Linked DNA regions of Homo sapiens. The protein of the gene in region 1 purifies or fractionates together with the protein of each later gene. This does not show direct contact. Each region holds a gene or a part of one and is shown in the gene's direction. Other genes may lie near its edges.

Region 1 (3,500 bases):
TGAGCCAGAGGTTACTTGAAGTCACACAAAAAGGTGTAAAGAATATATTTAAAGATGCAATATTAGCTACTTTGGAGCCTTCAGGACCAAGAAAGAGAAGAATATGTGTGTATTGCTGTGAAAATCCTTGTGGAGCCCTTTCTGAACATCTAGCATTTGCATCGTAGTGAAGGCAATATTTAAATTACACTGAATAAATATTAAGCCATTTTTTTGCAATCATTATGACTGTCCTGTACCCACTTATATGCATTCAAGGCGAGAAAACACTGGAAATCCCCCCTTGCCCCTTCTAAGTCATTTGGAGACTAGCTCATCAGGAGTAACAATGTATTATCAGAAAATTGATCATTACTGGACTTTTTTATTTATGCTTACTATTTTTGGTTTGGTTGCGATTAAAAGCAAGTCATGCCTGTGCTGAATGGAACAGATATGCAACATCGTGGACTATAATAGGATCTCTGTAGATCACTGCTGTGAAACCAGATATGTGGAGTTGCAGTGAGTGGTAGTGCCAGAAGACAGATGTCTGTGGGTTCCTGCGCTCTTTTAAGAGGTGCGCTCGTTAGGAAACTGAGGGAGGAGACGTTAGCCCATGGGCAAGGCTGAGGAGACACTTTTATCTCCGCTTTGCAGAAGAGGAGGGCCTCAGCCAGCCTGCTGGGATTTTCTGGTATCATAAAAACCATGAAAAAGACTTTAGTGGATACATTAGATTAATAGATTTTATCAGTAGAAGTTTTTGGTTTGCATTTTCCACTTTCAAATGTTTCTAATGTTAGCATTTAATATTTTTATTTTCTCCAAATATTAATATTTGTACATTAATAATTTGAACCTGTGATTTCTCATGTCTGAAATCTGTTTATAAATTATTTCCAGAAACACTAAACAAACAAACACCTTAAAAACAAACAAACAAACAAAAAGCTCTGCTGGAGATTCAGAAGCACAAGCCTATGGATTCTATTGATAGCAAATTAAATTAAAACATAAAGATCCTTGTTTTTGTCTGTCAAACTGACCAAGATTAAAAAAGAAAACAAATGTTGATCAGAAAGTTTAAGTTATTATTGTCTTATTAGAACACAATTTGATAGCGCAATATGAAAAGCATTAATACTTTTTATGCCAGGAATTCTATTTTTAGAAATGTAGGCAAAGGACAAATTTGGAAATGTTGACAAAAATTTATGAATGAGCAGGTTCAGGCAATATTATTTATAAAAATGAAAAGTTTAAAACTTGAAACGGGCCATGTGCAGTGGCTCATGTCTGGAATCCCAGCATTTTGGGAGGCCAAGGTGGAAGGATAGTTTGAGACCAGGAGTTCAAGACCTGCCTAGGCAACATAGCAAGACCCCCGCATCTCTACACAAAATAATAATAAGTAAAAAATTATCCAGGTGTGGTGGCACATGTTTGTAGTCCCAGCTACTTTGGAGGCTGAAGTTGAAGGATCGCTTGAGACCAGGAAGTCAAGGCTGCAGTGAGCTAGGATTGTGCCACTGCACTCCCGCCTAGGTGGCAAAGCAAGATCCTGTCTCACAGAAAAACAAAAACAAAAACAAAACCCTCAAAAACCATGAAATGTTCAAAAGGCAGGGCTTAGCTAAATACATCAGAGTAGTTCCACTCAATACTAAGCCATGCAGCCATTACAATCATATGTTTAAAAATATTGAATTGCATGGAAAAATGTACATATTCTAAATATACGTTTCTGAACTGAAAAAAGCAAGATATGATATTGCATATGCAATATCATTCTACATTTCAAAATTCCACATTTATGCATTTAAGAAGACTGGAAGAAAATACAACAAAATGTCAACAGTTAACTCTGGACCATTTAATATAATAATGGGCAATTTAAAATTCTATCGTTATGTTCCTCTCTAGTTTCTAAAATTTTTTTACAGAAAATATAAATGCCTTCATATTAGAAAAACAAAAAGTGTTCTTATTTAGGTACAGTGCCTTGCATAAGTGGAAACTAACCTCCTTTCTTTCTCTTGGGCTCCCTCTCCTCTTACTGATTTGATTGGTATTCCAATTACCACCTTCTGTTTTGCCTTATATTTATTTGTGCATATTTCTGTCCATCTTTGATTATGAGGCCCTAAGAGTTCACATCTCCCACAACCCTTGGAAGCTGACATCTATTACCTGATAAGTATTCACATATTTGAAGAATAAAATTGAGTTATATGCATTCTTCTAGACTATGCACATGAAGGAACATGAAAAACAGCCATGTGGTTAAGAGTTTTCCTATGAACAAACCACAAAATGGATAATCGTACACATGGTAGATGATTAAGGGATAACTATCAATTTTCATAGTAAATTCAGTCCTAAGTTTATATCTCAGTGTATCTTTTTTTCCAAAAACTAAGTGGGTATAAGAATCTGTCTTCTGATGAGCTCTGCTGTGTACATTTCACCTTTGTTGACTCCCAGGAGCCCTTCCCTAGCTTTTCCTTTACACTGGACCGAGTTCTCTGTTCTGCTCCATGGAAAGCCGCATTCAGTAATCAGATGTATCCCACAGGAAAAGATGCCATGGGTACCGGAAAAACAAAAAGCACAAACTAAACTTTTTGAGATGGCCATCTGAATAAATTTTGAATTGAAATGCTTTATTAGTAAAGAATCCTTTTCTTAATTTTTAGAAAGAGAGAACCTGCTTGCATTATGCTGTGAAGAAAAAATTTACCTTCATTGATTATCTACTAATTATCCTCTTAATGCCTGTTCTGCTTATTGGGTATTTCCTCATGGTGAGTACAACACTTGTAGAGCAAAGGGCAAATGTGGAGATCGATGGTGTGACTCATTGACTCTTGCCAGGCCAGTGAGATGTTGAAAAGAAATAAAAACAAAAAAAGCCTTTGGTTTGTATTCTGTAATTGACATGTTCAACATACATCCAATGCTATAATTGAAGTACAGCAAGAAGAAAGCTAGCAAAAATAGTTAATCAATGGTAACATAATCCATGCAATGTTGATTTAGAAAAATAATTTAACCTTAACTAAGACTTTTCTGAAGGGAGCAAAAAAATTCTGAATATTAAAAAACACCCCTTCTAATATTTTTTTCTCCTTTTTTTAAAAGAGGAGTTTGTGTTTTTGGATTTATCTTTCTGACTTACTGATTTTTAAGTACTCCTCTGGTGGTGTGTTGAAAAACAGATCCTAAAAGTTTGCATCCAGAAGCTGACACACACAGAAGATACTTGTTGAGAATTTAAGCCCATTTTCACCTTGATGAATTTCTTCATGCTTGGATGAATCTTGGCAGACAGCAATTTTCTTGAATAAAGAAAGATGTAGTTGGTATAGAGATGCAGTCATATGAGGAGTAGAAGATGAAGCTTGAGATGGTTTTTGGTTTTTTTTCCCAATAGGGTAACAGATCTGCACTGACTTACTCACTTTTATCCATCTAGTTTCCTTTGTGCCCAGTTCCACTTCTCAGACATGACTCAAGAG
Region 2 (2,541 bases), on another chromosome or scaffold:
CTGGTGACCTCTCGCACTCTTGCTCTGCCTAGGATGGGGCGGTCCTGCCTCAGTGGCTCTGCTCCAACTGTCAGGCGCCCTACGACTCCTCTGCCATCGAGATGACGCTGGTGGAAGTTCTACAGAAGAAGCTGATGGCCTTCACCCTGCAGGACCTGGTGAGTCGTGCATGCCGCCTGCCCGTGTGCCCTGGAGTCCACAGGGGGGTTTCTGTGCACTCCCGGGAGCCGGGGTGTGTGCAGGTCCTGAGGCACGCCCTGGTGTCTTCCAAGGGGCCTGCCCTGCAGACCAGTCCATGCCCTGAGCCTGATGGACTGTTCTGTCCACACTGGTTGAGCACCTGCCTTGGGTCAAGAGCTGGCCTTGTGGGTGCTTCGTTCTAGCGGAAGGAGGCAGACACTCCCAAGTGTGAAGAGAAGGAAAGGAGGAAGAGGGAGTTGCACAGCTCGGCCACAGGAAGGTCTTGCCGAGGGGCATCTGAGCAGAGGCTGGGGGACGCGCCAAGCTGCCGTGTGGTGGTGCACGGCGTTCAGGCCTGCAGGATGGAGGGAGTGAGCAGGGCCTGGAGGAGGCCTCAGGACTGGGCATCTGGGGTGGAACATCCACAGCGAGGGTGGGTGTAGGGAAGGCGCTGGCACCGTGGGATGAGGTCGTGCATTTTACTCATAACCGAGGGCTGGCTGCACACAGCAGGGGCTCGAGGCTTACTGATGGGCCCACGAATGTGTCTCGCGAGCCTGTGAAGAAGCAGCAGGCAGGTCTGGCCAGCGCGGGAGGGCTGGCGCCCATCGGGGCTGCTCCCTTTCAGGTCTGCCTGAAGTGCCGCGGGGTGAAGGAGACCAGCATGCCTGTGTACTGCAGCTGCGCGGGAGACTTCGCCCTCACCATCCACACCCAGGTGGGCTCTCCCTCATCTGCCTCGGCTCAGCCTGGCCTCCTTGGCCTCCTCTCTGAGTGGACTGGGGTCTCACTGTGCCTGTTTATTCCTGCAGGTCTTCATGGAACAGATCGGAATATTCCGGAACATTGCCCAGCACTACGGCATGTCGTACCTCCTGGAGACCCTGGAGTGGCTGCTGCAGAAGAACCCACAGCTGGGCCATTAGCCAGCCCCGGGCCCCGGGTGCCTCTGCGTCCGTGCCAGGCCTCCTGATGCCAAGGCCACATCCCCGTGCTTCCAGTGACCAGACCACTGACCACCCTGACTGTCCAAACCTGTGACCCCAGGCCAGGGAACGGGGAGGAAACCAAAGAAAACCATTTTCAGGGAGCTCAGACGTCACAGGAGGGAGCGGGAGCAGGATGTGGCCCTGGCCTCGCCAGAGCACCTGAAGAAGCAGGCCGTGAGCGAGGCTGCGAGTGCCCTGGGCGCCGTTTCTCACGCAGTGAATGCTTTTCCAGGCCTCTGTTGCTTCCTGCACCACACCTGGTGGGGTGGGAGCGTCCTCTAGGTGCCCCTAGTTCTTTGTCCTGCCTCCCAGAGGGAGGAAAAGCCCCTGGGGGCTTCTGGCTCCCTGAGATTGGGCTCTGAGACGAGACGGGTTCCCAAGGCCCTGGTGGGGCTGGAGTCTCACCTGTTTGCATGGAGAAATGGGCTGGCCCCACAGCCTCACAGGAGCAGTTTGTGGGCTGGTTTCCCCAGGAATCCAGACCCTAACCCGTGAGAATCTGGATTTTGGCTTGTGAGCCCTGCTTATTTGGAGCCGGGTCTAGAGGGAACCCTCTATCAGCCTCAGGAAAACAAGACCTCTGTGCACCTCACTTTTGGCTCACTGCAGCCCTTGTCCTTCACCTCCACACAGGACCAGCTGGAAGCAGAAAGAAGAAAGGCCAATTTCACAGGGCACCAAACAAGTATGAAATGTAAATCAGAAATGCAGACACCCCAGACGAGAGCCTCACAGGAGGGAGGGGGCCCCACAGGCTCCCCAGGAGGCTCGTGTCTTTGGCCCAGAGCCAGCCTTAGTTTGTCCCTGCCATCTACTGTCTGAGGCCATCGCTGCTACACTTTGTTTTTATTTGTATTTCATACTGAAGTTTCTCTAGGTTGTCACTGTGTATTTGTGCAGAGCGCCTCAGATCGGGGACTGGGTACCACTGGGCACGTGTTTGGCCCCTGGATGCTGCTGGGGCCGCCTGCCTGGAGAAACCTGATGCCTGCTCAGATGGAGGAGTGCTGAGGCCTCCAGAGTGGAGATCAAATCAAATTAGGGCAAGCAGGGGAGGAGGGAGGCTGGCTGACTAGGCTTCATTCCTGGAAGCGAATCTGGAGAACCCTCAGGAATGAGGAGTGATGGGGCCAGGGGACAGCCGCTCGTCCCCCAGGAAGGCCACCTAGCAGGACCAGGGGTCGCCCGGTGCAGCCGTGGGCGCCAGTCAGCCTGGGTTCACTGTGAGGCTAGCTGCGGGCATTTGAGTAGTGGTGGAGGGGTCAGAAACGGGAAGCTCTGGCCCTGGTTCCCAAGCAGCGGCTCAACCAGAAGAGCCAGTTTCTCCAAAAATGAGCTGGATATTTGTGAGCCACACAGCATGTGCAGGCCG
Region 3 (4,083 bases), on another chromosome or scaffold:
ACACTTAAAATGTGACAATAGCTGCCGGTCACTAAGAAGCTAAAGGGAGATAAATTATCTTGGCATACAGCAACAGAATGGTTTATTTTAAGCAAAGACTAAAAGGAGTCTAATAAAATTATTGGGAGACCAAGGCTAAAAGCCACAGATGCAGGAAGAGTTGCAGCAACCAATCCAAAAAAGTTTAGCCTTTCACAAAGAGTAGAAAGGCCAGCTGTGGACTGTGTGTGGACTTTTAGGTCCTTTTGCATTGAAGATTAGGGTGGCCTCCCCCTAGCCTCGAAATAAAAAATCGTCTCTGAAGCAGAGAGACAACAAGGCAGGGCATGAAGAGGAATCCAATCTATTTCTTGTAAATTAAATTCAACTCAACAAATATTTCCTGAAAATCTACTATGTGCAAGACATTGTGAACGATGCTTGCCTTACCTCAAAGGCTTCAAAATTTTATGGGAAAAGGGAAGCGAACGGGCTTCCCGGAAGTAAACAACCCAAGGGCGAATAGAAATGCCCTAAAAGAGGTGCCGGTCAGGCTTATCGGTTCAAAAGCAAGAAGGCTTTGGGACTCAAGAGTTTAGTCTCCCAAAGTGAGAGAAGTGGCGTTCAAGATAATTGCTGAAGAAAAGGCAGAGATATGGGGATGAAAGATAGGAAAGTAGGTGAACTTTAGGAAGAGCCAAGAGGGGCCAACTCTCGGTTCCCTCACAACTGCCAGTTTCCTCCCGCGCTCAGCCGACGTCACGCGCACCCGTGTCCGCGGGCAGGCGCCACGGTTCCGGACCAGACCTACCCCTCCTCTATTCTCCCCGCCCTTTCTCACCTCGGTCCAAACTCCTCGGTCTGCCCTGTCTGAGAAGAGGAGAAGACAATGCCGTCGGGAGTGAGCCCCAAAGCCCGCAACCTAACAGTCCCGTCAACCCGGGAGCCACCGGCGGCGGCCAGGCCGCATCTCCATGGCAACGCCGCCAAGCGCCAGTTCGAACGCCCGCGCTGTGGCCCGCGCGTCGCCAGTCCCGCACCGCCCACCAATGGGCATCCAAGGAATCGGTTGACGTTCGTTGACTTCTCCTCTGGAAGACCAATCAGAGGTCTGAAGAAACCGTGGGCGTAACTCTCAATTTCCGACCTTCAGCCAATCGTTCCGCTTGAGGGAAGATCTCGCGACGTTTCAGTGTGAGACGCGCACCTTTGAGGCGGGTCGAAGATCCTTCTGCCGAATTCTATTGATGGGCCCAAGCGTAACCAGGCTCTTCTGATTGGCCGGTGTACTTCAGTTTCCGTCCAAGGTCCGCCTCCTACCTCCTTCTGCTTCGGGTGAGTACCCTTAAGGGCCCACTTGATTTTAGTTCTCAGTGGAGGAAATGAGCCTTGGAGCGATGGGAATCTGCCTCTGGCAAACCTCTGGTCGCTGCAGGGCCCGAGAGGGATGCGCCCTCCTCTAAGTTGGCAGTGAGGTGTGGGCAGGCCAGGTCCCATCCGCTCTCAGGACCTCAGTTTTCCTGTCTGCACCGGGAGAAGGGAGGTTCCCTGACTCTGAGCCTTGCTTGTCCCCGTCGGAGTGGGGATAGGGTGGGTCGTCCAAATCCCAGAGGCGGGAGAGGTCCAGGTTTAGGGCCCAGAGGCCCAGGCGCCGAACCTTCCCCTCCCTGGGCCTCAGTTTCACTTGTTGCTACCCATTAAACCCCGCCTGCTTTCCAAAAGAGATTTTATGTTTTCTAATTGCTTCAGTTATTGAATGGATAATATCGTGGCAGTTATAGCAGAAGTAAAGAAAGTCGAACAAGAGCCCCACCGCCTTAAACAAACAAACAAAAAAGGGACAGCGTAAACAATGCAGGCCGGGTGCGGTGGCTCACGCCTGTAATCCCAGCATTTTGGGAGGCCAAGGCGGGCGGATCACGAGGTCAGGAGATCGAGACCATCCTGGCTAACACGGTGAAACCCCGTCTCTACTAAACAAAATACAAAAGTTAGCCAGGCGTCGTGGCGGGCACGTATAGTCCCTGCTACTCGGGAGGCTGAGGCAGGAGAATGGCATGAACCCAGGAGGCGGAGCTTGCAGTGAGCGGAGGTCGCGCCACTGCACTCCAGCCTGGGCGACAGAGCGAGACTCCGTCTCAAAAACAAAACAAAACAAAAAAAAACTGAATGCAATCAAATTGTCAAATGTAAAACGCTATTATAGAGTTAAGGTTAAGATCATTGATGTTAGGAGTCAGGCAGACCTACATTTGAGTCACTTACCCAGACATCTCTGAGCTATAGTTCCCTTTCTACTCTTCTGAAAAATGGCAGTAATGCCTCAGCGGGTTGTTGTGAAGATTAAGTGAAATAATGAAGGTAAAGCACTTGACACAACGCCTGGCGAGTAGTAACTTCTTAAAAAATGGTAGCGGCCGGGCGCGGTGGCTCACGCCTGTAATCCTAGCCCTTTGGGAGGCCGAGGCGGGCGGATCACGAGGTCAGGAGATCGAGACCATCCTGGCTGACACGGTGAAACCCCGTCTCTACTAAAAACACAAAAAATTAGCCGGGCGTGGTGGCGGGCGCCTGTGGTCCCAGCTACTCGGGAGGCTGAGGCAGGAGAATGGCACGAACCCGGGAGGCGGAGTTTGCAGAGAGCAGAGATCGCACCACTGCACTCCAGCCTGGGCGACAGAGGGAGACTCCGTCTCAAAAAAAAAAAGGTAGCTATTATTCTTATAATAAGAACAGGCAAATACACTAGTCAGTGCGTTGGTGTACTTTTTGTAACTGAGTACCCAATTTTGCCCAAAATTAGTCAGTTAAGGGAAAAAAGGTAATTCTTACTAATAAGGAAACAAATCCATTCTTCAAAAGATAAATTATTTTTCTAGTTTCTATATTAAAAGGAATTTATGCTGTGGGACCTTATAAGGAATATATATACTGTGGTGAACAGTGTTGAGCAGTTTAACAGACAAGATGAAAAGTCATTTCTTTAAAACAGAGAAGCTTTTTGATGATCTTTTATGACACACGGGTAACAGTAACTCATATATTTAGTACCTCTGATAATGTCAGACCCTCTATATATGTCATTTATAAACTCCACAACAACCATGCAAAGTAGGTGTTAACTTCATTTTACAAATGAGGAAGTTAAGTATCTTGCTCTAAGTATCTTGCTCTATTAACTTCAATAGCTAGGCCTTTCTGACTGCATAGACAGCCATGCTTTTCTGTGTTTCTGACTAAAGGAGGATGAAAATGCTTGGAATACCAGACAGATGCAGGGGCAGGTTGGACAGCTTGACTTACCTAAATTGGAGGGAATGTGAGCTGCAGAGGTACCTATGGTAGGAGCAATATCTTGCTCTAATAGAAAATTTTCACCGTGGTCTTGGTAGAGAAGGGAGGAGAAAAAAATTGTTTTAATAAAAATAATTTTAAAAAAGTAAATTCCCACCTTGGGAAATGAAGAGATAGGATGAGATGATCACTGAACTTTAGACCCATCTGTTCATTTATCTTATGGATAGACTATAGCACTTCAAATTCAACTTGTCCCAAACAAATGCTTCACTTGCACCCCCTCCTCCACCCAGGCACTCAAACCAAAGCCTTTCTCTTTCCCTTGGCTTATGAAACATCTCTCTGTCCCTTAGACAATGAAATATCACTATTGTCCATTTTACTTTGAAATATCTCTCAGATTCATCCCTTCCTTTCCTTTCTCACAGCCTCTGCCTTGATCTAACTGGAATCATTTGTTAACTGGTCTGTTGCAATAGACTTGTAACTGGTTAATCTCTCTGCCTCCAATCTGTCCTAATTCGTTCCCCAGCTTGCTTGCAGCTAGAATATCTTTGTAAAATGTCAGTCTGACCAAATTATACCCTTGCCTAAAACCAGTCAGAGGCTTCATTGCCTACAGAATATAAACTAAGCTGTTTACCAATGAGATGTCATTTTGTGCTTGAGGGTGTTGCCCACACTCCTCCCTTTGCTGGCAGTGCCTTGCATCCGCCTCCCTTCTGCCTGGTAAACTAGTGACCCATCAGAATCCTTATGGGGTACCTTGTTAACCTAAAGATGCTTCTTTGCTGCCTTTCCATCTTA
Region 4 (3,500 bases), on another chromosome or scaffold:
CAAACACCTGCCAGTAACAGTAAGATAAGAAAGACATAAGGCTATCTCACTAAGTTTGTATAAATTCTAAAATTCAGAATAAGTTTTGTATGAGGTATTAAAAATTTAGTTTATAATTGTAACATCTTTATTTTATAGGCTATTTAAAAATAGGTGTATATTTAACTACAGATGTAATACATGGCTTGAAAAGGAAGCGTAGTGTAACATTTCAGACTGAGTGTGGACTCTGACACCAAGTTACCTGGCTTAAAGTTCCAGTTTTGTTATTTACTAGCTGTGTAGCCTTAAGTAAGTTCCTTAACCCCTTGCTGCCTCAGTATCGTTATATGTAAAATTAAGGTAATGAAAATACCTACATTATGAGATTGCTGTGACTGGTGAACAGGTCGGCATGTAAAATATATGAAACAGTGCCTGAAATATTTTAAAAGCTATATACATTTTAGGTGTTACTATAGTTGAAATAATCCAGAAAATTAGAATTCCCCGTATTATAAGAGAATAGTAAATATTGTCAGATTTTTATATACATAGCATAATTTTTTAAAAATTTATTTAAAAATCTACAAACAGTAAAGTTCACTTTTTTAAAAAATATACTTTCTATGGATTTTCACAAATGTGTATAGTCTTGTGACTGTCAGAGATGTGTGAACTGGAACAAATCCATCTTAAATAGGAGCTGGGTAAAATGAGGCTGAAACCTACTGGGCTACATTTTCAGACAGTTAAGGCATTCTGAGTCACAGGATGAGATAGGAGGTCACCACAAAATTCGGGTCATAAAGACCTTGCTGATAAAACAGGTTGCAGTTAAGGAGCTGGCCAAAACCCACCAAAACCAAGATGGCGACAAGAGTGACCTTTGGTGGTCCTCACTGCTACACTTCCACCAGCACCATGACAGTTTACAAATGCCAGGGCAATGTCAAGAAGTTACCCTATAAGGTCTAAAAAGGGAATGCATGAATAATCCATCCCTTGTTTAGCATATCATCAAGAAATAACCATAAAAATGGGCAACCAGCAGCCCTCAGGGCTGCTCTGTCTGTGGAGTAGCCATTCTTTTATTCCTTTACTTTCTTAATAAACTTGGTTTCAGGTTGCACCGTGGACTCACCCTGAATTCTTTCTTGGGCGAGATCCAAGAACTCTCTTTTGGGGTCTGGATCAGGACAGCTTTGCTGTAATGTGACCTAACTAGGAAATAGAACAGTTTCCTCAACCCCCTAAACTACTTCTTCTTTTTTTTTTTTTTTTTTTTTTTTTTTTTTTTTTGAGAGGGAGTCTCACTCTGTCACCAGGCTGGAGTGCAGTGGCACCATCTTGGCTCACTGCAACCTCTGACTCCAGGTTCAAGCGATTCTTCTACCTCACCCTCCCTAGTAACTGGGATTACAGGCACGCGCCACCATGCCCAGCTAATTTTTGTATTTTTAGTAGAGATGGGGTTTCCTCATGTTGGCCAGGATGGTCTCGATCTCCTGACCTCGTGATCTGCTCCCCTTGGCCTCCCAAAATGCTGGGATTACAGGCATGAGCCACCGCTGGACCAACCCCCTAAACTTATATTGTGTTGTTTCTTTGTAGTCAAACCATCTCCCTACTTGTAATCTTTGCCAACCGCTGATCTGTTTCCTTATCCTTTGGGTTTGCCTTGTCTGGAATGTCATATAAATGAAATAATCCAGTAAAAGATTTTAAAATCATATCTTTTGAGTCTGGCCTCTTTCATTCAGCATAATACATTTGAGATTAACTCAACATGTTGCATGGATCAGTAGTTTGTCGTTATTCTGAGTAGTATGCCATTGTGTGGATGTACTACGGTTTTGTTTATCCATTCTCCCTGACTGACATTTGGCTGGTTTCCAGTTTTTGGTAATTATGAATAATGCTGCTGTGAATAATTACGTATAGGTTTTTGTGTGAATATACATTTTCATTTGTCTTGGATATTCAGTAGAATTTCTGGGTTTTATTGTAAGTGTATATTTAGGATTTTAAGAAACTACCAAACTTTTCCAAAGTGGCCATCCCATTTTGCATTCCCACCAGCAATGTTTGCAAGTTCTGGTTGCTGCATATCCTTGTCAGCTCCTGGTATTGTCAGTGGTTTTATTGTTTTAAAATTTTTTTTTTTAGCTATTCCAAATAAGTGTATAGCTAGCATAATTTGGAACCAAGTTTGTCCATCAAACTCTTGAGACTTGGAAGAAGATAAAGAATAGGGCTGGATTAAATGCAGAGTCACATAGGAGCTCATAAGGAAGAGATGGAGAGACCATCAGATTTGTGAGAGCTTTGCAATTTCTGTCATATTCACTGTTGTAATCCCCAGATGACTAACATAGTGCCTGGCACACGGTAATTGGGATATCTTTGTATGTTTATTGAATCATTGAAAATCAACAAATGATTGAAAGGGAAGGAATAGAAGTAGGATAGAAGTAATTTTAGATTAGATTTGGTCTGAGTAATCCCAGTATATTCATGTGACACACACCTTTCTACCTGCTTAAGTCTGAGTTTAGAGACATATTTCAGGGCTAATTTCTGGCCCCTTCGCAGGAGAAAGAGAGCATGATATAGCAGAAGAAGCAGTAAGCAGAAAAGATTTGATGCTACTAATTTGTTGTGTGGATTTAGGAAAGTCTTCTTAACTCTCCTGAGCCTCAGCTTCATCACTGCATAATGAAAATATTTTATTATATGATAGCTAATTTATTTTTTTTCTGTTAATCACATCAAATCAGAAATTGGTGAGGAAGAAGCATGCCAGAGCCTTGATAAGGGAAGCATTATATATGGATACAACGTGAAGTGTAGCTCTGCAGGGAGTTGAGGGGTGAGTGTTAAACAGAGCTAGCTAATCACTAATTGGCAGAAAAAAAAACAGTAGATAGAAAACGGTAGTTACAGGGTTTCAAACAGAGCAGCAGCGTTGCAGGACTGGGGGGCGGGGTGGGTGTATAAAAGGAAGTAGGCATTAACAATACCAAATTAAGATGTTCGTAGGTTTTTTTTTTTTTTCTGGGGAGAAGCTAGCTATAGTGTCATCAACGCAAAGAGGAGGACCTGAGCCTCAGAGAAAACAAAGTTGAGGATAGGTGGTAACACAGACCACTCTAGGCCCCATGTGTGAGCTCTGGGAATTGTTCAGCATGCTGCTTTCCAGTGGCCTTTTTCTCTACCATTATTACTCCGTTACCCCACTTCTTTAAAGTTTAGGTCTAGAGTTTAGCAAAAAGCCAGCTCTTAGTTGATATTTATTCAGTTTGTACTTTGAAGGATTTTGTACACGTACTGTCAAGTATCAGTAGAAATTTAAAAATAGTCGGCTGGGCACAGTGGCTTACGCCTGTAATCCCAGCATTTTGGGAGGCTGAGGCGAGCAGATCATGAGGTCAAGAGAACCAGACCACCCTGGCCAACATGGTGAAACCGTGTCTTTACTAAAAATACAAAAATCAGATGAGTGTGGTGGCGCGTGTCTG
Region 5 (3,500 bases), 3.2 Mb from region 1:
TTAATCTTGGGGTTAGCTTAAACAGATGATCTTGTACTATCCCTTAAGTGAATGTAAATAAGGACACATCACTTCATCTATCTTCTCTCTAGCTGACAAGTTTCTTTGAGGTAGAGAGAAGGAGGAAAAAAAATGTCACTTAGGACTATCTCTAGAAACAGCACATATCCGTCTGTTCCTTATCCTCAACCCCAAAAAAGTGTTTTACTTTGGTCACAAAAATCTAGTTAGGTGTTGTAGGCCCCTGTAAATTTAATTATTGGGAAATGTTTATAATTGAGACAAACATGTCTAATAATTGCTTACTTGGTTAATGATAACATTATGAATTCTTAGATGGTGACTTTTAAATTCTTTTGTTAAAATTTTAAATGTATTATGATTTTTTCTGAAATTCTGTTTTTATCTAACATTTAATTTTAAGGCCCAGAAGCCTTACCTGGTACAACGGAGAGGAGCTGAATTTGCTTTGACAACTATAGTAAAGCATTTTGGTGGTGAAATGGCAGTGAAGTTGCCACATCTCTGGGATGCTATGGTTGGCCCATTGAGGAATACAATCGACATAAATAATTTTGGTATACACATATTTTTATGAGTCCAGTTTTTAACAAATTTTAATGTCTATTAATTGAATATATCCTTATAAAATAAAAATGCCTCTATGCCTCTACCTGTTTATTCCAGACCAGCTGGTAAGTTTTAAAATGGAAACTTGGTTTAAAAAAAACACACACCTTTATTTTATAAAAGAGATATTTGGGTTGGGCATGGTGGCTCATGCCTGTAATCCCAGCACTTTGGGAGGCCCAGGTGGGCAGATCACTTGAGGTCAGGAGTTTGAGACCAACCTGGCCAACATGGCAAAACCCCATCTCTAGCAAAAATACAAAAATTAGCTGGGCGTGTAGTCCCAGCTACTCTGGAGGCTGAGGCAGGAGGATTGCTTGAACCCTGGGGGTGGAGGTTGCAGTGAGCCGAGATTATGCCACTGCACTGCAGCCTGGATGACAGAGCGAGACTCTGTCTCAAAAAAAAAAAAAATTGTTTTTAAAGAGATACTTGAAATGGATCACTATGTTTAAGTTCTTTGGTTGCTCTACATGTAGTACCCCAGCACTTAAATTAAGGTCATGGCATTTAATTTTAACACTAAGAAGCAAAATTGACTCTCCTATGCTAGCTGAAAAAGTGCTAAAAGTTTTTGTGTGCTCTAGATTTTGAAAAATTATTTGCCAGATAATACAGACAATATATTTTAACAGATGGAAAATCCCTCCTGGATAAGGGAGATAGCCCTGCTCAAGAATTGGTGAATTCTCTGCAGGTTTTTGAAACAGCAGCAGCTTCAATGGATTCTGAGCTTCATCCCTTGGTAACTAACTAATGCAAGTGTAATATTTCTTCAAATAAAACAAGTGGTCTTATTAAAAAGTCTTAAGGTTTGAAAGGTACAGCTTTGATGTCATCCTTATTAATTGCATTTTTCTTTGCTGTGGTATAACTAGATTCCTCCTTTACTAACAGTGCAACTCCTGTGGGCTTTGATGTAGACCAGGCTGCTTGAATTTAATAGAAAACCCAACCTGGAAGCTTAGAATGTGGGGGCATTGAGGAAAGGACTCTGATGACACAGGAGCCAGATGTAAATAGGAAAGAAAACTGCAGCCCTGTTCATCCAGATGATCCTAATAATACAGCTCCAAGAAAGGAAAAGCATATATAATGAAATCTGTTTCCTAGATAAGTACAAAGGTGAAAGGAGTCACCTGCCTAAGGTGAAGCTGGTCAGTGGCAAAGATAGAACACTGGTTTGGGATTTTTTTAAAAAACTATTAAAATGTTTCTTACAAAAGAATTAGGACAGAGGGAGGAGGAAAATAGAGAATTATCTGGTTTTTTTCATAGAAGAATATTATTCTTTTCATATCTCTGCAATAGGAAGCTGTCTGCAATTTACCCCATTTTGAAGGGTATTAGCCCAGTTCTCTATTGTTATTTAACACAAAAGGGAGAATCTATGAGAGGGTGGAGAAGAATGGATTTTTTTTTTTGTACATAGTAATAAAGTATGTCCTTTTACTTGTTAAAAGTTTTGCTGATTTACTGTTAGTAAAGAAAAGTAGGCCGGGCGTGGTGGCTTACACCTGTAATCCCAGCACTTTGGGAGGCCGAGGTGGGTGAATCACGAGGTCAGGAGTTCAAGACCAGCCTGGCCAATATGGTGAAACCCCCATCTCTACTAAAAATACAAAAATTAGCCGGGCGTGATGGGACATGCCTGTAGTCCCAGGTACTTGGGAGGCTGAGGCAGGAGAATCACTGGAACCCGGGAGGCAGAGGTTGCAGTGAGCCAAGATCGCGCCACTGCACTCTAGCCTAGGCGACAGAGCGAGACTCAGTCTCAAAAAAAAAAAGAAGGAAAAAAAAAAGTAGAGTCCATCTGTACGCTCTTAATCTTCATAATTAGCAACATGCATTCAGCTGAACTGTAAGGCACATCAAACTGTTGAACAGATACCTGGCTCTCATCAGCATTAATTCTGGTGTTCCTTGTAGCAGACATTTAGTAAGGTGCTGTTGTGATGCTGTTGTGATTATAACACCTATGGTAAGCCAGGAAGCTACAGTGGACGATACCTACCAAAGTATGGTGCTAGAATAAAATCAGGAACACTCAAGCCACTGAATAAAAATTATGTACCTAAATCTAAATTAGTGCTACCAAATTTGGAGGGAGCTGGTGATGTGTGGTGCTGTTTTCCAGCTTCAGTAGGAGAATCTTGCCAAGTACTTTTTGGTTTGTTTCCTGTTAATTTTGGAAAGAATTGAGTGTTCCTATATGCCTAAGAGATGATATGAGCAGAGCAGAGGTTCTATACCTTTTTTTCCCTTCTTTTTGAAAGAGTTGTAATACATTAATTTGTATTTGGATTAGTTTTCTATTGAGAATGTTTTGGCAGTAATGTTTTGAAGTATTTGGAGATATTTTTAGAGTCACTTAGAATATTGAAAACTTTCCTGAGTATGGGCTATTATAGTTACATATTAAACAGTATTTCCTAATAATTCTAATTGCCATTAACTTTTTGTTTTTAGTTGGTCCAGCATTTGCCACATCTTTATATGTGCCTTCAATACCCCAGTACTGCAGTGAGGCACATGGCTGCTCGTTGTGTAGGTGTCATGAGCAAAATAGCTACCATGGAAACAATGAATATTTTTTTGGAGAAGGTTCTTCCGTGGCTGGGAGCAATTGATGACAGTGTCAAACAAGAGGGTGCAATTGAAGCACTTGCCTGTATCCTTTTTCATTTGACAAACTGTTCAGGAATTATATTCATTTCACTTAAGGATAATTAAAATGAAATTGATGTGTTCTAATATGCACATAAATAACCTGCCTTGTTCCAAAAAATACCTATTCTTTTTACATCTTATTTTGAAATATTTTTGTATTTTATTACAAATGTGTTACAAACTGATTTGCATTTTATGAT
Region 6 (3,995 bases), on another chromosome or scaffold:
ATACATTGAGATTTTGTGTGTGTGCTATCTTCTGGAATGAAGCCCCACACCGTTTATTAGATGATCTTGGGGATATATGTCTTGAAGGGAAGAATGATTTAGAATATCACATTAAAATTGTATATGTACTGTGAGGCAGCAATACAAATCTGGCACTTTGCCAAAGTTATTACTAGTAGGTGGGTTAAAGGGACGTTTACTCCAATACTATGCAAAGTAAAGTGGACCTTTCTGTCAAACAAAAATAGTAATAGGCCGGGCATGGTGGCTCAAGCCTGTAATTCTCAGCCTGGTGGCTCAAGCCTGTAGTTGTCAGCACTTTGGGAGGCTGAGGCGGGAGGATAGCTTGAGCCCAGGAGGTCGAGGCTGCAGTGAGCCACGATTGTGTCACTGCCCTCCAGCCTGGGCGACAGAGTGAGACCCTGTCTCTAAAGACAAACCACACACACATATACACACACACACTGACACACACTTATTGTTCAATTCAGTGCGTGTTTTGCTTCGTTTTGGATGAAAATTAACAGGCTTTCACATTGTGACTTAATCTTATCAGAGACTCCTAAAGTAAACAATAGCGCAGTAGGAGAAACCCTGATTGTGTAACTTCTGCTCTTGCTCCCCTGGAAATAATGTCATTTCCTATAAACCCACCCCCAAACAATCGTGACTACGTATTCATACCACTGGAGTCTTCCAAAATAGCAACTGCACATTATTTATCAACGTTTAGTTTGCATTTGACAAAGCACATCCACCTGGGCTTCCATTTATCATTGCTATTATTATATTTTATTATTATTTTCTTATTTCCAAAATCTTTGTAGAATGGAAAGTAAACGGGGGGACCAAAACCCCACTTAGAACTCTGCTTAGAAGATTCGGAAATGCCCTTGAGGTTTGGTCCTCCCAGGAGAGCACGAAGTTTATCCTCGCGCGCAGCCTCTCTTCCCCGGCCCGCGCCCACCGGCCTAGCCCGGGGCTAGCGCCCGCCCACGTGTGCTCGGCTCCAGGCAAACCCCGCTGAGCAGCGGCCGCACACCGCCCACCCCGGGGATTGGTCAGCGCGGCCGGGGCCCGGCGGGAGGCGGGCTCGGGGTCGCGTTCCGGGAGCGCGGAGGAGGCGGTGCCGCCCGGCCCCGCGCCCCGCCCCCGCCCCGGGTGGCTACACAGAGGGGCGCCCACGTGCCCAGCCCTCCTTCTGCAGCGCGGCCGGCGGGCGCTCCTCTTCGCGGGACCAGCGAGGCGGCGGCCGCTGCTCCAGCGTCCCCCAGCCGCGGGCCCCCGACGCGCTGCAGCCGGCAGCCCACCGCCGCCTTCTTGGCGCGACCCCAACCCAGCCCCAGTAAGTTGCTAGGTCTCCAGCCCCGCCGAGAGGCCGCGGGCGAGGGGCAGCCCGGACGCTGGGGCCGGCGGGGAAGGAGCGGGGCGAGGGCGCCCTGGGGCCGGCGGGGAACTAGAGGGTCGAGGGCTCCCGGGGACGAGTCCAGCTGCGCGCAGCTGCCCTGAGGCCGCGCTCCAGCGAGTCTTCGTCAGGGAGTCGGGGCCGTGGGCTGGGGCTGAAGCCGTGGACCTTCGTCCTCGGGGCTGCGCCCCGGAATGCGCCTCGCCTCGTCCGGTCCCTGTGCAGCCGGCTCTGCCCGGGGACTTCGGGGACCGCTGGAACTGGGAGAGGGGCTGGCACGGCGACTTCGCGGGGACCCTTCAGTCACTATTTCCAGAGGAGCTCGGCGCACCCCTCTCCGGGTGGGCAGGCTGAACCTCCTGGCCCTGCACGCTGCCGGGGTCCCCGAAGCCGCCTTCGCTCCTTTTCGGTTCTTGGCTTAAATTAGAAAGCCGGCTTGGAGCGCTGGAAGCCCCTTCACATTCTGCAGGGGACCTGGTAAAATAGCCCGTCTTGGTGTTTGTATTGGGTATTTTAAAGTAACTGGGTGCCTTTTAAAATCCGTTTGAGATGGGCTGTATTTTATAAGCCCGTTTCATGAAACGCTGTTCTTGAGGCTTAGAGAATCTCCCAACCCATCACCCCAGAGTACCTGTCCGTTCAGAAAGTACCTTTTCATCCTCTTTTGACGCTTACATCCAGTCTATGGAGTAAGGTATTGAGAGATTGTCATCTTCAACTCGTCGAAAAGAAATATGCTCAGCAAAAGCCACAATCATATGTGGCTTTTGAAGTGGATATAGTGCCTGGATTTCAAGAGAAAAAGTACTCAGCCTCTTCAGAGTTGTAAATATTTGTGCAAAACTGGCTAAAGCCTTTAGGTGACTAATTTTGGACCAGTAATAAGATTTATCTAGACGTTTGTGCAGAAACACTAATCCTTTTAATGAGAGGATATCGTCAGATCTTATTCAAATAAGAGCTCTCTGAATCCCATCCAGGGCCGCCTGGGTTATAAAATTAGAATGTATGTGGCCTTGACTTGATACTTTTTCATTCTTGCCTGAGCTAGTCTTTAAAAGTTAATAATTATCTCCTCCGGAAGGTGAAACATTCTGTGTTTGTAATCTTTCTCTAGGAGATGTATAAGATGTGAATATTCTGTATTATGTACCTTGTTAGGATTGCTTTGTAATTAGTAAATCCTTTTTTATTTTAATTGCACTGAAGCGTGACATGAAATGATCTCTCAGTGCAGAACACAGGACTTCTTCCCTCTCCTTTTCCTACAAAGTTGCTAGTTGCCTGCTCTGGGAGGCCACTTTATTGTGATTTTTCAAGTTTCTTCCCTCGGCCCACACTTTGTTTACATTCTGTGCCTTCATCTGGGAATGGTCATTTACCTTAAGGCATTTTAATCTTTTAGGGTGTGCCATGGCCTTGGAGACCAGAGTAAAGCGCTGTGGTATCTGCGGGGATCAGTTTGCAGAATCCTTGGCCTCCTAAGCAGTGGGCATAGCTCTTTTCATTCCAGAATCTCTGATCATTCCAGAGTCTCTCCTGTCACTGGGCTTAGGAGCCTGGGAAGGCGAATAGAAGCTAGCTGGGGAGACAGGGGAGCTGTGGCAGTTTAAAAAGCCTGATCTTGCGCTGGAGTTTTTCATCTTGCATTCTCATGTATCTTTGCCTTTTGAACACATGTGCCTGAAGAATTTTAAAGTTCACGTTTCTTGCTTTGCACTGCAAGCACACTCACCTTTGCAGAGTGGAAGTGCCTTGTCCCCATTCTAGGTGGTCTACCTTCTGTTCTCTTTTCAGACCTCCTGGCTTAAGCCCTTGTTTCTCCTGGCTGTTATGGCCAGACCCGGAGTCCCCGTTGTGCCCATTTCTTCTCTTTTCAGTCCTTCCTTTTCAAATGTTTTTTCCCAGAAGTCCTCTGGCAACTTCTCTATTTCACCTAGCCTCTGTCTTCTCTTGTTTTATTTTTCCCTCTCTCCCTCCCTCTCTATCCCTCTTTCCCCCTCTTTCCCTCCTTCTCCCTCCTTTCTCTCTTCCTCTCTCTCTGTCTCTCTCTCTCTCTCCCCCTCTCTCCCTCATTTCTCTCTCCCTCTCTCTGTCCCTCTTCCCTCCATTCTCTCTCCCCCCTTCTCTCTCTGTGTGTTCAGAGCCATCTGCTGGTTTTACTTTGGTGCCCTTTGGTGGACAACTTTCAGAACAGAATCTTGGGAGCACCTTCATGTTGCTGTTTGCTTTATTTCCCCCAAACATGTAGATATGAACACACTGATTTTAAAGACTCTTATAGACTACCTACTAGATGCCAAACATTTAGAACAAAAGCAAAAGCTTTCAGTGGAATATATTTCTAAATACTCACATATTTAGTTTTGGGTGCATCATTTGAATGCTTTGTCATCCAAATGAATCCTGAAAAACTTAGTTAACTAAGATTTCACTTAAGTGATAGCACTTGTCTAAATGGGCTTGAAAATCGAAGCTGTTAATTAATTTCTAAAACTTTAATCTGGATATTAAAAACCATATAGATACAACCTTGAATGACAACAGAAAACTAATGGAATTGTTCTTGTCATTGTCTTCCATTTTAATA
Region 7 (3,962 bases), on another chromosome or scaffold:
TGAATATGCTCAAAAACAGTCAAGTAGGATGTTCTTTGCTACTGTTTGGCTTGGAGTTTCCTTGAAAGAAACTACAGAACAAATATAATTAACTCGATTGAATTCACTGGAAAGTAAAGTGATCAATAGTTGTGTTTTTGAGTTAACTGAAAAGTGACCTCAGGAATCACAGGAAAGGCCCAAAATTAGTCGTTTGAAACAGCTATTCATAGTTGGCCACAATATTAACACCTTCGGCGAAGCTGCGTGGTGCCCGGGGTGGAGTTCCCGAGTGTCAACAGCGTCCCTTGGGCGCTTGCGGTGGTCTTTGCCCGGCACTACCAGACCCCTCAGGGAGGACTTTTGGGATTAAAGGCATCTTAAAAGCCAACTGAACTGTGTGAGAGTTGTCAAGGTCACAACGGAGTCGTTTGTGTTTAAAACCCTGACAAGCAGGGTGGGAAGGGCCCCAGAGGCAGCGTTCTCACGCCGGAATGCCCGATAACAAGACCGTCCCGAGAGACTCCGCAAAAGCCACAACCTTGCACACTGGCTAGGCAACCTCACACCGAAAAATACCGGAGGACTCCCGCCAGCGGCGCCCGTCCGACCTCCGGCGGGCGGCGCCCTCTCACCCGTCCTCCTGGCCGCAAAATGACCGCAAACAGGGACGCCGCCCTCTCATCCCACCGCCACCCCGGCTGCGCTCAGCGGCCGCGCACCCCCACGTTTGCCAGCAGCTCCCAGAGGCGGTCAGCCTTTGGGTTTGACGACGGCAACTTCCCGGGCCTCGGCGAGCGCAGCCACGCACCCGGAAGCCGCCTCGGGGCGCGACGCCGAGCCAAAACCGCCCGCGGGCTCCGAGGCCACAGGCAAGTGGGGAGGGTGCCCCGTGGGGCTCGAGGGGACGCAGGCACGCCCAGCCCACGCACCGAGCACTCTCCTTTCCCGTCCCCGGCTCCCGCCAGCCGAGACACAACGCTCGCGTGATGACGTCGTGCGCCTGCCCGGCCCACTCCAGTAGTCTCCGACCCGGCCCACGGCCCGCCCCGCGCGATGACGTCAGTATCCACCCCGCCCGCTCCCGGTGACGTGCCAGCCCCAGGCCCACGCCGCTCCCGCCCCGCGTGATGACGCCACCGTCCCGGGCGGAGGCGGGCGTGCGGCGGAGCCGCGTCCCCTCAGAGGGGCGCTGGCGCGGGGCTGAGCCGCCCGGGATCAGCGCGAGCACCCAGCCCGCCTCGGCCGGGAGGGCAGCGCGGCACTGCGGGGCGATGAGCGGCGCCCGGGGCGAGGGCCCGGAGGCGGGCGCCGGCGGGGCTGGGGGCCGCGCGGCGCCTGAGAACCCCGGGGGCGTGCTGAGCGTGGAGCTGCCCGGGCTGCTGGCGCAGCTGGCGCGGAGCTTCGCGCTGCTGCTGCCCGTGTACGCGCTGGGCTACCTGGGGCTCAGCTTCAGCTGGGTTCTCCTCGCGCTCGCGCTGCTCGCCTGGTGTCGCCGCAGCCGCGGCCTCAAGGCCCTGCGCCTGTGCCGCGCGCTGGCGCTGCTGGAAGACGAGGAGCGCGTCGTGCGCCTGGGGGTGCGCGCCTGCGACCTGCCCGCCTGGGTGAGTGCAGACCCCTGCCCGTCCCGACCCCTGACCACCAGTCCCGATCTCCCCTCGTCCAGGCAGGCACTCCCCTCCCCGCGACCTGCCGCCTGGGTGAGTGCAGACCCCAGCCCTGCCCCGGCTCCCGCCTTCGTAGTCCCCCACCCACCCCGGTCCAGGCAGGCGCTTCCCTTCCGCCTGGGCGAGTGCAGACCCCAGCCCCGGCCCCCGGGCCGGTTCCTGCGACCTGCCAACCTAGGTGAGTGCAGACCCCGCCCCGCCCCCCGGCCCCGACTCCCAGCCTGCTGGCGACCTGCCCGCTAGGGCGAGTGCAGACCCCAGCCCCGCCCCGGCCTCCGGCCCACTCCCTGCGAACCTGTCCGCCTGGGGCCGCCGCCCGCTGCTCGCCGCTCCCGCCCTAGTCCTGAGTGCTCCGTGCCCTCCCTCCGTCCAAGTCGGGCGTCCCCTTCTCCGCTTCCCCGCCCGCCCAGGCTCCGGGTCCGGGGCGCGTCTGCCCTCGTGAAGCCTCCCCTCGCCGTCCCGCGCGGCTTTCTCGGAGACCCCTCTTCACAAAGCCCGCTTCCCTCCCCCGGCCTGCAGACCCCGAGCGCCAGCGGCAGGTACCGGGCTTGGCGCCCCCTCTTCGGCCGCGGCCCTGCCCGGAGCGCGCGCTTCCTCCTGGTGCCGCCCGCGGGGTCTCCTTAGGGGCCTGAGCGGCCGGTTCTGCTCTCAGAGCGCCCAGCGCGATTCTCGTGCGCATTCCCAAAGCCCTGCCGGCCTGGAAATGCTCCGGGTGGCTTCAGCTTTTCCTTCTCTCTGTTTTTTAAAAAACGTAATGACAGCTGGTGGGGGAGAAGTTAACTTTTTCTTCTACCGGGAGAAGACGCACTCGTGTCTTGGTTGTTTCTGACGCATTTCAAGGGCAGTAAGTGTCTCTCGAAAGATGTGGAGATATTAGATAATTGAAAGATTGTTTCAGTTTTTTTGCAAGTATAATTGTGAGACTGAGCATTTTTATATGGGATCGACCTGAATCCAGTGTGAATGTGTGTGTGTGTGGCAGGAAGTTTTGGAAGAGTTGCAGCAATAACAAGAGTCATGGTATTATTTTATTTTTAACCCGGCAGTTCTCTACCTCGTATATTTATGGACTATAGACACGAAGAGTTGGCTTCAAATCTTTTTCTTGTCATTCCCTAATTCTTTCTTAGCCATGACTTGGCTTCACAGTTTCACACTGCAAGAAAGGATTTTAATGATTCTTCCATTAGGCTTAATATAAACTTTGGGGTGAAGGTGACCAGCAGTGGGTTTCGGAAGGGTCATTTTCTCTTAGAGGAGAAAAGTCCCTGTTTCCAGTCATGAGACACCTGAGAAGTAAGGCATGACACAGATGGCAAACAAGAATTAGAAAGGAGGCGTGCCCAAGACAAGAAGAAGGTAGTAGATGCTACTTTGTGACGTCATATTGCAACTGGAGTAAGAATATAATGTAAGGAGCTTGGGAATGTACAGTTCTGCCGATGCGTGGTGAGCATGAGGGAGTCATATTTGGAGAACCAAGGTAACTGGCATGGTGCAGCTTTTAGCTAGCGGCGGGAAAAACCGAGGGGTGTGTAGAAAAAGGAAGTTAAGAGGAACCGAGGTGGGGAAAACTAAGAACAGAGGAGGTGCACTTTGGAAATGGAAAAGGACTTTAAAGTGACGTTTTGTGTCTATATTACACTAAGATGCATAATACTAAAAAGTAGCTAAAAACAGAGTCCATTAGCATCCATTGCTATGTTATATTGATAACATAGCAATGTTATCAGTGCTGAAATTTGCAGGAAGTGATGATGCTGACTTTCATAGATACTTGGTTATTGGCTAATATCAAATTTGCTTGTTAAAAATCTTTGTGAAACACAGATTTTCTTTTTCTTTTCTTTTTTTTTTTTTTTTGAGACAGAGCCTCTCCCTGTTGCCCAGGCTGGAGTGCAATGGCGTGATCTCGGCTCACTACAACCTCCGCCTCCAGGGTTCAAAAGATTCTCCTGCCTCAGCCTCCCGAGTAGCTGGGATTACAGGCGTGCACCATCACGCCCAGCTAATCTTTGTATTTTTAGTAGAAACAGGGTTTCACCATGTTGGCCAGGCTGGTCTCAAACTCCTGACCTTGTGTTCCGCCTGCCTTGGCCTCCCCAAGTGCAGGGATTACAGGCGTGAGCCACCGCGCCCGGCCACACAGACTGTACAGATGAAATTGCTGCCCTATTGAAGAACTGAAATTTTTTTTTTTTTTTTTGAGACGGAATCTCGCTCTGTTGCCAGGCTGAAGTGCAGTGGCACCATCTCAACTCACTGCAACCTCCGCCTCCCGGGTTCAAGCCATTCTCCTGCCTCAGCCTCCCGAAT

The links.
Region 2: the proteins of ANKRD22 (region 1) and POLE purify together in Homo sapiens (co-immunoprecipitation; one large-scale study listed by IntAct). This does not show direct contact.
Region 3: the proteins of ANKRD22 (region 1) and NUDT2 purify together in Homo sapiens (affinity purification with mass spectrometry; one large-scale study listed by BioGRID and IntAct). This does not show direct contact.
Region 4: the proteins of ANKRD22 (region 1) and LCLAT1 purify together in Homo sapiens (co-immunoprecipitation; one large-scale study listed by IntAct). This does not show direct contact.
Region 5: the proteins of ANKRD22 (region 1) and BTAF1 purify together in Homo sapiens (co-immunoprecipitation; one large-scale study listed by IntAct). This does not show direct contact.
Region 6: the proteins of ANKRD22 (region 1) and SLC7A2 purify together in Homo sapiens (co-immunoprecipitation; 2 studies listed by BioGRID and IntAct, with this or other methods). This does not show direct contact.
Region 7: the proteins of ANKRD22 (region 1) and ESYT2 purify together in Homo sapiens (co-immunoprecipitation; 2 studies listed by BioGRID and IntAct, with this or other methods). This does not show direct contact.

Annotation. Positions count from the first base shown.
Region 1 is NC_000010.11:88,827,845-88,831,344, reverse strand, and holds part of ANKRD22 (ankyrin repeat domain-containing protein 22), read left to right. Parts: intron 1-2,678; coding exon 2,679-2,786; intron 2,787-3,500.
Region 2 is NC_000012.12:132,623,262-132,625,802, reverse strand, and holds the end of POLE (DNA polymerase epsilon catalytic subunit A), read left to right. Parts: intron 1-32; coding exon 33-158; intron 159-383; coding exon of another isoform or gene 384-623; exon of another isoform or gene 624-787; intron 788-808; coding exon 809-898; intron 899-992; coding exon 993-1,106; 3' UTR 1,107-2,041; downstream 2,042-2,541. UniProt on the Homo sapiens protein: Catalytic component of the DNA polymerase epsilon complex. Participates in chromosomal DNA replication.
Region 3 is NC_000009.12:34,328,286-34,332,368, forward strand, and holds the start of NUDT2 (bis(5'-nucleosyl)-tetraphosphatase [asymmetrical]), read left to right. Parts: upstream 1-1,283; 5' UTR 1,284-1,314; intron 1,315-3,282; exon of another isoform or gene 3,283-4,083. UniProt on the Homo sapiens protein: Catalyzes the asymmetric hydrolysis of diadenosine 5',5'''-P1,P4-tetraphosphate (Ap4A) to yield AMP and ATP. Exhibits decapping activity towards FAD-capped RNAs and dpCoA-capped RNAs in vitro.
Region 4 is NC_000002.12:30,520,246-30,523,745, forward strand, and holds part of LCLAT1 (lysocardiolipin acyltransferase 1), read left to right. Parts: intron 1-3,500. UniProt on the Homo sapiens protein: Exhibits acyl-CoA:lysocardiolipin acyltransferase (ALCAT) activity; catalyzes the reacylation of lyso-cardiolipin to cardiolipin (CL), a key step in CL remodeling.
Region 5 is NC_000010.11:91,993,270-91,996,769, forward strand, and holds part of BTAF1 (TATA-binding protein-associated factor 172), read left to right. Parts: intron 1-424; coding exon 425-578; intron 579-1,265; coding exon 1,266-1,375; exon of another isoform or gene 1,376-1,388; intron 1,389-3,099; coding exon 3,100-3,301; intron 3,302-3,500. UniProt on the Homo sapiens protein: Regulates transcription in association with TATA binding protein (TBP). Removes TBP from the TATA box in an ATP-dependent manner.
Region 6 is NC_000008.11:17,495,893-17,499,887, forward strand, and holds the start of SLC7A2 (cationic amino acid transporter 2), read left to right. Parts: upstream 1-1,195; 5' UTR 1,196-1,345; intron 1,346-3,995. UniProt on the Homo sapiens protein: Functions as a permease involved in the transport of the cationic amino acids (L-arginine, L-lysine, L-ornithine and L-homoarginine); the affinity for its substrates differs between isoforms created by alternative splicing.
Region 7 is NC_000007.14:158,826,710-158,830,671, reverse strand, and holds the start of ESYT2 (extended synaptotagmin-2), read left to right. Parts: upstream 1-1,162; 5' UTR 1,163-1,253; coding exon 1,254-1,583; intron 1,584-1,651; exon of another isoform or gene 1,652-2,490; intron 2,491-3,962. UniProt on the Homo sapiens protein: Tethers the endoplasmic reticulum to the cell membrane and promotes the formation of appositions between the endoplasmic reticulum and the cell membrane. Binds glycerophospholipids in a barrel-like domain and may play a role in cellular lipid transport.